Regions from separate parts of the Homo sapiens genome. Here region 1 is linked to region 2. The links come from fine-mapping of genetic effects on gene expression. A gene starts in region 2. The other region holds a variant in brackets. All regions are shown on one strand. Distances are between the middles of the regions.

Region 1 (5,380 bases), 520 kb after region 2:
ACTTCATATGGGTATTGTAAAAGGAAAGGGAATATTTTTTAAGTGACTAAATAAAGAGGAGTTAGTACACCCTGTATCAAAACCCACTTTTATGGATAGTTAGTGAGTTCTAAAGAAAAGATATTTATGTGTAAGTTTGTAAAGTTTTGAGTTTGAGTCTTGACTCACAACAGTGTACACTGATGATTTTTTTTCTCCATTGTCTTGCTAAATGTAATGCTCATTTCTGTGCTATTTTCAAAAATTAATCAACAGTTTAATCAGTCATGCTTAATTTGGGGATTCCATTGGTGGCCACCTCCCTGCACCATCTACTGAATGAATCTATTTGTTTTAGGACATCGATGGCAGAAAAGATTATTTGGGATCCATGAACCTATTTTGTTTACAAAGCTTGTGCTTAGGTAGTTGACGCTATTATCAAACAGAGTGTGCGCTAGAGATGGTGCTTGGCAGGCTTGGGGTCAGGCTTTTCCGGGTCTCAGTTGTAAATCCTGCAATGTTTTTTTCCCCTCCCTTTAGTTCACTTATGGTAGCTTGGGCAGAGTCTGACATATTTCATTCCTGGCTGCAGGCCAAAACAGGCTTTTTAACAAAGCCACGTATTCTTTTCCTACTTTCAGATGGGCTAGCCCCACCAAAGTGGTTGACTTTCTTCTAAAGTAGTGAAAATAGATTTGTCTCACTTGGCTCTTTGCTGTAAGCAAAGGAAAACAATTTTGCCTAATTAGCAAGGGAAAACAATTTTGCTTAATTTAAAGAGAAGGATATAAGTAAGAAACAAGAGGAAGTCAGGAAGTGGGAACACAGGCAAAATCTTGCCTCAAATGCTCTGGTTCAGACACTGCTGCTGGCCCTACCTCCTCAGGTGACAGTGCCAGGATGGTAAAGCCACAACCGCCCACTATCTCTACCCACCCCTGATGCTGAGCACAGTAGCATAAACTGTCCCTTTATCCTTGCATCACTTGATGAAGGTACAAAAGCTGAGAAAAAGAACCAGATGGCGGGGGCGAGGCACCTGTTCATGGGATATGGAGAGGACACACTTGTCTTCCTTTGGCCTTTGTGTGCAAAGGTGGGCTGTGTCTCTCTCCAGGGCTCACACAGTGGGAGATTTCTCCCCAAAAGGAAGAGGTTTGTGCAGCCAACAAATAAGGAATATTCACTACAGTTTACCCTTTTGGCTGACTATATTTGTCCTTCTACACATATTTACATTAAAAAAGTCCTTATCTAACATAATATAATGATCCTTCGTATAACTTACAATACACTCTTTCCCTCCCCCAAGTAAGAAAATCTGAAGTGAGCCAGACTCCAAATCCAGAATCTCTGGGGGATGTCCACTTCTTTGGTTCCGCATAATCCCACTTCAGAATTTGGCTACTGAAAGCACGCATTATATGGTTGATTACTACCACCTACCTCCTCAAGAAAAGGGAATTTAATTAAAATGCGCAAATATAACCATGATTCAACAAGAAAGAAAAATTGGGTAGAGGCTTTAGTCTTTGTTTCTGCAAGTGACCATGAGACTGTCACTGGTATTTATGACTTTATTCCTCCACCAAGCATTTCTGTTTGCTTTGCCCTCTGCTAGCACCTCAGCTGGCTGGGATTCTTTACCCAGTGGGATCACTCAAACCTTCTTCCGGAGGGATCTAAGCTTTTGGTGGTTCTGCCTGAATAGATTGCCAGAGTCTTTGATTAACTTTTAACACTGGGCATGGTAATATGAGAAGGTGTTCTGTTTATTCTCCTCCCTGCCCCCATTGTATAACAGCAATCCAGTTTTTCCTTGAGAATTAGAATCAATCAAACTACGCTAAAACACCATTTTCCCCCTGTCTTCAACATGAAGAGTGTAAAATAGTCCAATAGAAGTCTAAGCTCCATCAAATGCTGAAAACATTCCTCTTTTCTATGATCCCCATGCCAGCAGAGCCTGGAGCTGATGGGATGGAATGCAAAATTTTGCAAGATGTAATTAGCAATTAGGTAATAGCACCATGTTTAATATAGCACCATAGATAATTAAGTGAATAGCACCATATTTCTAGTCCTTTGTTCCTCAACTAATATAATTTGGTTTTGGGAAAAACAGAATTGTTTACTGTTTGCTGGTTAAAGAACAATTACTACATCTACAGAACCAG[G/A]CCCTGAATTTTCAAAGTATCTATTGTACATTAGGACTTAAATCCATCTTCAGTAGTGCATTTTACCCTTTTTTCTTTCTTTCTTTCTTTTTTTTTTTTTTTTTTTGAGACCGTGTCTCACTCTGTCGCCTAGGCTGGAGTGCAGTGGCATGATCTCAGCTCACTGCAACCTCCGCCTCCTGGGTTCAAGTGATTCTCCTGTCTCAGCCTTCCGAATAGCTGGGACTACTGGTGTGTGCCACCATGCCCAGCTAATTTTTTGTATTTTTAGTAGAGATGGGGTTTCACCGTGTTAGCCAGGATGGTCTCGATCTCCTGACCTCGTGATCTGCCAGCCTCGGCCTCCCAAAGTGCTGGGATTACAGGCATGAGCCGCCGCGCCCAGCACATTTTACGCTTTTATAAGATGATTGACTCTAGATGAGGGTCCTATGATAAGACTGGCTATTTCTAAAGTAAAGTGAATTCTTTGGCTGGGAGAAATGTTGTGTAGTGTGCCAATACTTGGTTTCCCTTGAAGTGGACAAAATGCCCACTAGAGTTCATTCTGGGGATAATGCTGGAGAGCACTCGAATCCTGCGTTCTTAGGAATTAGTGTTGCCTCACAGATTGTGTCTTATCTTTTCTCTAAATGTTTGATATTTTTCTTTCTTTATAACACAATTAACTTAGTAAATGCCAAAAGTCACACAGCTAGTAAATGTTACAGCCAGACTTTGAATCCAGTATTCTGACTGCAAAATAAAAGCTCTTGTCTCTATGCAATGCATCTCTTCTCTACACCAGTGATTTTATTGTCCTTTGTGGTCATTAGGCTTTTCTTCATTGAAGGAGCCTCTTGGATCTTTAAAATGACTTTGTGCAACATGTTTATCTGCTACATACGAGTGAGACATGCAATATTTGTTTTTCTGTGCCTGGCTTATTTCACTTAACATAATGACCTCCAGTTCTATCCACATTGCTGCAGATGACAGGATCTCTTTCTTTTTATGGCTGAATACTATTTCACTGTGTATATATACCACCTTTTCTTCATCTATTTGTCCACTGATGAACACTTAGATTGATTTTATACCTTGGCTATTGTGAATAGTGCTGCAATAAACATGGGAGTGCAGATATATCTTTGATATGCTGATTTCCTTTCTTTTGGGTATCTACTTAGCAGTGGGATTGCTGGATCATATGGTAATTCTATTTTTAATTTTTTGAGAAACCTCCACACTGTTCTCTATAATGGCTATATTAATTTACATTTCCACCAACAGTGTATGAGTTCCCTTTTCTCTGTATCATAGCTAGCATTTGTTTTTTTTTGTTTTTTTTTTTGTTTTTTTTTTTGTCTTTTGTAAATAGCCATTTAACTGGGGTGAAACAATCTCATTGTAGTTTTTGATTTACATTTCCCTGATTGGTTATGTTGAGCCTTTTGAAATATACCCGTAAACCATTTGTGTGTCCTCTTTTGAGATAGAGACTAGAATGATAATTACTAGAAGCTAGGAAAGGTCAGGAGTGGAAGAGAATGAAAAGAGGCTGGTTAATGAGTACAAACACAGAAGGGCTAAGTACTATTGTTTGATAGAACAGTAGGGTGACAATAGTTAACTATAACGTGTGGAATATTTCATAATAGCTAGAAGAGAAGATTTCAAGTGTTATCAATACAAAGAAAAAGTAAATGTTTGAGGTGATTGATATTCTAGATACCCTGATTTGATCATTATACATTATATGCATATATCAAAATATCACATGTACCCCATACATACAGACAATTATTACATATCAGTAAAACTTTTTAAAATGACTTTGTTCTAGGACTTGGGTAAGAGGTCAAGAATTTTATATGTATTTTGGTGGTATTTACCAGATCCAAAGTTTTTTCAAATATACAAGATTTTATTTCAACATCTTAGACTGCATGGTTGATTAAACATTGTCAAAAATATCTAGGTTAGAACATTCTGATCACTATGATAACTATGCCTCCTCTCCCTCTGTTGATTAAATGCCATATGATGGACATCTGATTGAATCATCCCCATGACCCATTGGGGAGTTCCTATCATTAGCATTCCTAATGCTAAGATACCTTTCTAAGTTGCTGGTGTTATTCTCACTAATGTGTATCACAAACTTCAGTGAAGGAAGTGAATTCTGGACTCCCCCTAGGGAATGTAGAGAGTGGGTTAGACAGTTTGCATATGGTAAATCCATTGTGGTCTTCCATTTTCTAGTCTCCGCATTCCTTCCTTTTTGACACACCAAGGAATGTCTGACATTTCAATGAATGCGGTATGGAGAAATAAATCCTGAGTATACCTATAGTTGCACCAGATAGAAAAAATTAAATTAAATTATAATTTTAATCAGAGTGAATGCATGTATACACTTTTAGAAGCAAAGTAAGACAACAAGGCATATGACAACAAACTGCAGCCCCCTTCATACATATCTACCCTTAATTTTTGCTCTCAGAGATGATGACTTTCAATTCTTAACTCTTTCTTATGCTGTATTTCTGAAAACTTGCTTTTTCTGCTTTCTTGGTTTTTAAATTTTAGACATTATCCATTGATTTCCAGTTACTGAAGATAAGTAGTTAGTTTTTTTTTTTTTTTAACAGCAATCGCCACCAGTGCCTACAATTTCCATCTCTCATCACTTTCAGTATAGTTATCATGTAATTTTTGGTTAAATTAATATTGAGTGTCCACATTCTTTTGAGTATGTTAATATTGTCAACAGCAGAGTTTGTAATATAGTGACCTTCTACATCTTATGAAGCTTTTTGTTTTTTTTGGAGTTTATAATGAATTCTTTTTACATGTTTGCTTATCTTATAAATACAGGTACTTATTGCTAACAATCACCAAATTCTTCTACTGATCTATGAAACTCTTTAAAATAAAGTCATAAATCAAGCACAGCAGATAATAATCTATCAGTCTCTTTTTTTTTCGTCATCTTTTTTTAAGCTCCAAGTCCTCCTGCAATATTTATTATCTCAACCTACTACATAACTATCATCCTAAGGTTTCTGGTCACATTGAAACTGGGAATTTTCCTTGCCTTGCTGCTATATTGAATCTCTTTTTCCTGGATGCCATATCCTTCTATTTCTTAGTTTAGATTTTTTGTTTTTGTGGAGCACATCCTACTGAGAAAAGATTACCTATAATAGGCAAGACCCTTAATGTCTGAAAATGCCTTT
Region 2 (5,380 bases):
TTCTTTGACCCAACCATTTATCCCTTGCCTACCTACAAGACAGCTAGATGAATCCTTTAAAAATGGCAGATGTCATTCCTCCACTGAAACCTTCCAATAACCTGCCATCTGCCAAGGACTGTTGTGTACCCTGCTAAATTAATATGTTGAAGCCCGAATCCTCTCCTCACTCCTATGTGACTGTATTGGAGACAGTCCTTTTAAGGAGATAATTAAGGTTAAATGAGGTGATCAGGGTAAAGCCCTGATTCCACAGAACTGGTGCCCTTATAAGAAAAGAGACAACGCTCTCTTTATCATCTGAGGAGACATTGAGAAGGTACTGTCTGCAAGCCAAAAAGAAAACCCGAACATGATCATGCTGGCATTCTGATCTCAGACTTCCAGCAGGCAGAACTGTGAGAAAATATATTTCTACTGTTTGAGCCACCCAATCTATGTATTTTGTTATGGCAGCCTGAGCTGACTAACACACTATTCTACTAAAAAAGTCAAGTATGTCTAACAGCCAAAAAAGGTCCTAAACATTCTGATCTACTACATCCCATATCCTAAGCTCTCTGATGTAATTGCCTTTGATTCTTCACATCTCTTAAGCAAGTTCCAGCCAAACTGGCTTACATGCAATTCCGTGAGCATGCTAAGCATGCTCCTGCCTTTGGGTCTTTGGTTTCCCTCTGCTTCAGACACTTTTTTTCCCAAGAACTCATATCACTCACTTCCTTACTCAAATATCACCTTCTCAGTGAGGCCATCCTATGGAAAATTTTATGATCCTCATTTCACACAAATATCCCATTTCCCTTTCCTTAGTACTCACTGCTTGGATGCTATGTATTTTACCTATTTATCTTGTCTATTGTTTCTCTTTCTCACTAGAAAGAACTCCATGAGAGATGGGATTGTCCGTTTTGCTCACTGCTATATCCCGTAAATACAGAGTAGCTCATAGTACCTGTTCAGTATTTATTCAACTAAATGAATGTTGAATTCCAATAGTGGCAGAATTCGTTGTGGAGCTGAAAGGTACTGCACGGATCAACTACTAATGCAGCAATTCCCTAGTAGAAAACTGCACTGCTTAAAGGACCACCTCATTTTTCTGGCCTCCTCTGGTTATTACTAAAGCTCAAAAGGAGCTTTAAAAATCCTGATGCAACAGCTGTTTTCCCCTCTCACCGTCTTTAAAAATAGAGATAATAAAATAGCCTGAAAAGTTGTCAAGTTCAAGTAAGATCATGTTTATGACAATTTTTTGAAAATTGCCTGGTTGCAGCTTTTACTTACAGCATTTTCAAACAGTTCTGCCAACTCTGTGGCTCTTTCATCATGTTTCAAGTGTTCAGCAAACGATGGTGTTCGTCTCCATAAAGTCAAAGTTTAAAAATACAAGGGCCGGGCGCGGTGGCTCATGCCTGTAATCCCAGCACTTGGAGAGGCGGAGGTGGGCGGATCACGAGGTCAGGAGATCGAGACCATCCTGGCTAACACGGTGAAACCCCGACTCTACTAAAAATACAAAAAATTAGCAGGGCGTGATGGCGGGCGCCTGTAGTCCCAACTACTCAGGAGGCTGAGGCAGGAGGAGAATGGCGTGAACCCAGGAGGCGGAGTTTGCAGTGAGCCAAGATCGCACCCCTGCACTACAGCTTGGGCGACAGAGCGAGACTCCGTCTCAAAAAAAAAAAAAAAAAGTACATAAATAAAAACCAAGTAATTGGAGGACGCCATTCATTGATTTTACTTAGGACTTTGGGCATAATCTATAGGTTTAAAAATTTCTGCTGCTAAGAAAGTGGGAACACAGTTATATTCCCTTACATTTTACCGAAGAGAAACTAGACCTGCAGAGGAGTACCTTTCTGTTTCTATATAAGCAGAGGAATTCTGCACAACCCAAATCACGCAGAAACCTCCTGGTAAGGACTCCACGGGTAGTTATTGCCGGCATTGTATTCTGAGAGATGAGCTGCATATCACTTTTGGAAATGCCTTAAATTAAAACTCGTCTTGAAACAACATGACGTCTCAAAGAAGCTCCCTTCTCACCTTGGAACATCAGCTTTTAAAATAAAGGTGTCATCAGAAGTGTGTAGACACCCACTGCATCACAACTGGAACTGATCTCTGGTTATGCCAATCTAGGTCTGCCTGGCAGGGTGAGTCTACCGCTCGAAAGCTGCACAGAGGAAATCCTCCCTCCTCCAGGTTCAGGCCCGGAGTTACGAGCGGAGATTCGCGGCGGCGGGTCAGAGCCCAGAGCAAACCAGGCTGGGGAACGCACCTCGCCCGCGGCTCCGGAAGCGGCTGCGGCCCCGACCGGAAAGCCCCCAGCATCGCCCGAAGGAATCGCGGCTGGCCTGCGGCTCCGGCCCGGCCTCGGGTACCACGCGCCTAGTGGGAAGCCGCACTGACGCCTGCAGCATCTCGCGAGATTTCGGGCTCAGCCCAAGTACTGCGAGTTCACCAAAGCGGGGGGAAAAAAAAAAAGCCAGCGTGCGAGAGCCTCTGAAGCCGTGGCTGGGGCGCTGGGGTGGCAGCTGCCGCGGGAGCATCAGCTACCGGCGTGAGGCGAGGCAGGGCACGCGCGCCGTCCGCAGCCCCGTTGCCTGGGCTGCAGGTCCACTGACGCGCGGCCCCTGGGTGGAGAGAGGGGAGGTGGCCTGGGAGCCCGCTCCTTTTCGCCGCAGAGCGCGGCGGGGGAGGGAGGTGAAGGCGTGGGAGGAAGGCGGCGGAAGAGGAGGTAGCCGCGCGGAGATCCTCCCGGCGACATCACTGAGGCGGAGCGTAGCCGCGCCTGCTCCCCGATCGCGCCGTTCGTGCTGCCCGCACTGCCCGAGGCCCTTTGCGGACTGGCTGGCCGCGCTCTTCGCACGGGGCGCTTTTGCGTGGGGTCGCGCAGGAGCCGCGGAGGGCCGGATCGCTGAGGGAGCGTCAGCCGCGCGCCGCTGCGGGACCGCGGGTGGGCGGGCTGAGGGGCGGAGGAGCCTCCGGCCCCGCCTCCCGCGTGCTGCTGCCGGAGCCGCCGCCGCCGCAGCCCCGCCGAGGCTTTAAACAGCGGGGCCCGCCCCGCGCCCGCCACACTCGCGCGCTCGCTCGGCTGCCGGTGGCCTCTGTGGCCGTCCAGGCTAGCGGCGGCCCGCAGGCGGCGGGGAGAAAGACTCTCTCACCTGGTCTTGCGGCTGTGGCCACCGCCGGCCAGGGGTGTGGAGGGCGTGCTGCCGGAGACGTCCGCCGGGCTCTGCAGTTCCGCCGGGGGTCGGGCAGCTATGGAGCCGCGGCCCACGGCGCCCTCCTCCGGCGCCCCGGGACTGGCCGGGGTCGGGGAGACGCCGTCAGCCGCTGCGCTGGCCGCAGCCAGGGTGGAACTGCCCGGCACGGCTGTGCCCTCGGTGCCGGAGGATGCTGCGCCCGCGAGCCGGGACGGCGGCGGGGTCCGCGATGAGGGCCCCGCGGCGGCCGGGGACGGGCTGGGCAGACCCTTGGGGCCCACCCCGAGCCAGAGCCGTTTCCAGGTGGACCTGGTTTCCGAGAACGCCGGGCGGGCCGCTGCTGCGGCGGCGGCGGCGGCGGCGGCAGCGGCGGCGGCTGGTGCTGGGGCGGGGGCCAAGCAGACCCCCGCGGACGGGGAAGCCAGCGGCGAGAGCGAGCCGGCTAAAGGCAGCGAGGAAGCCAAGGGCCGCTTCCGCGTGAACTTCGTGGACCCAGCTGCCTCCTCGTCGGCTGAAGACAGCCTGTCAGATGCTGCCGGGGTCGGAGTCGACGGGCCCAACGTGAGCTTCCAGAACGGCGGGGACACGGTGCTGAGCGAGGGCAGCAGCCTGCACTCCGGCGGCGGCGGCGGCAGTGGGCACCACCAGCACTACTATTATGATACCCACACCAACACCTACTACCTGCGCACCTTCGGCCACAACACCATGGACGCTGTGCCCAGGATCGATCACTACCGGCACACAGCCGCGCAGCTGGGCGAGAAGCTGCTCCGGCCTAGCCTGGCGGAGCTCCACGACGAGCTGGAAAAGGTGAGCTCGCCCAGCCCTCCCTTCTTCCCCAGCCCCTGGTGCATGCCGACCGCGGGATGTGGCTGCAGACTCTTCCCGAGTTGAGGTGGCGGGAGTAGTAGACGTGCACGACTTGCTGGCATCTCTGGATTCAGCTGTCAAGGGTGGAATTGCCGAGGAATGTTAACTTAATCTCTCAAAAGTTTGTAGCGGGTTTGGCTAGTTACGTGATACCGGAGGGCTGCCTCTAACAACCTTCCCCATCCAGTTAGGTATCTCGTGTGCACTTTCTTTCCCACCCACGCTCAACAGTCACCATCCCTCTGAATGACAGTAGTGTTTGTGGGCCCTTTAGAGGAGAATGTGCAGTGAGGATCTCTCGAGAGAGGTTGGAGAGCACCTACCATCTGTGTCGTTTTGAAAGATTGTGTTGTGTGGCTTATGTACGCCTATTAGGGATCGCAAGAGTGGGAATGTTGCTGTTTGAAGGAAAACCTTAACAGGGTGTGTTTATGGTCTATGAGTTATTAAAGCTCAATTCTTGCAATCTTGAATATACAAAGGATCATAGAGATCTTGTCTTGGGACACGCTGTTCCTAATAATGGCATAACTCTTTTTTTTTGCGATGAAAACGTTTTGGGAGAGGTGTATATTTAAAAAAAAAGGGACAGAGGCGAGTCTTTAAAGAAAAAAGGGAAACAGGAGAATTGGTTTTTCTGTAGAGGATGACCAGAAAGACCTGTGGGGTCTTTGCCATAAGCAGTTACACTTTGTAAACAGAAAACCATCCCCATAAACTCATTGATTTTTGTAACTATTTTTTATGGTCACATAAGACTTATTTCTTCAGCGTTCAATGTCACTGTTTTGAGATAACATTGATGCTTTTGAGATTTCGTTAATGTTTAACTTTTTTATGAGCCGGGATTACTTGAAGTCTTCCTTTACAAGTGTGTAATGACTACATTGATGGAATTTGTGAACGCAAGAGGATGGTACCACATAGGTTGAAATGATCACAGTTTGGACAAGTTTAAATCCAGTATGTGATTTCTTTTGGATATGATTATTTGATCTCATACAGTGATTTCATACAAGATTGTACTTGTCCCAGTGTTTGATAATGTAACATTCACACAGAGGTAATTACAGAGCTCTTACAGCTTATTGATTGTTTAAAAGCCTGAGATCATTTAGCTTTAGATAATACTATTCTTGTTATTCCATTGTGGTATTTTGTCATAATCAGAAGCAAAACAATGTCTAAAACATTTTTTATTCATACTCCTGTAGTTTCTATCAAGTCTATTCTTTTTTCTTTTCAAAACTCAAAAATCATTGTAGACAAAAGTAGATATGGAGCTGGCAATTTTC

Evidence for each region. PIP is the estimated chance that this variant, and not a neighbour inherited with it, causes the effect. A credible set is the group of variants that fine-mapping cannot tell apart.
Region 1: its variant is the best candidate, but not a certain one, in a credible set for the expression of SLC12A2 in pancreas (GTEx, PIP 0.53).

What each region holds. Positions count from the first base shown.
Region 1 is chr5:128,595,703-128,601,082 of GRCh38, forward strand. No RefSeq gene overlaps it. Among named protein-coding and RNA genes, the nearest start is that of FBN2, 60 kb to the left of the region's middle. The variant G/A (reference allele first, on the strand shown) is at 2,160.
Region 2 is chr5:128,080,686-128,086,065 of GRCh38, forward strand. SLC12A2 (solute carrier family 12 member 2) reads left to right here and starts at 3,081. Exons shown (of 27, transcript NM_001046.3): 1 at 3,081-4,025. The coding sequence starts at 3,270. SLC12A2-DT (SLC12A2 divergent transcript) reads right to left here and starts at 2,490. Exons shown (of 4, transcript NR_152813.1): 1 at 2,285-2,490. RefSeq lists a silencer at 2,745-3,574 and an enhancer at 4,065-4,234.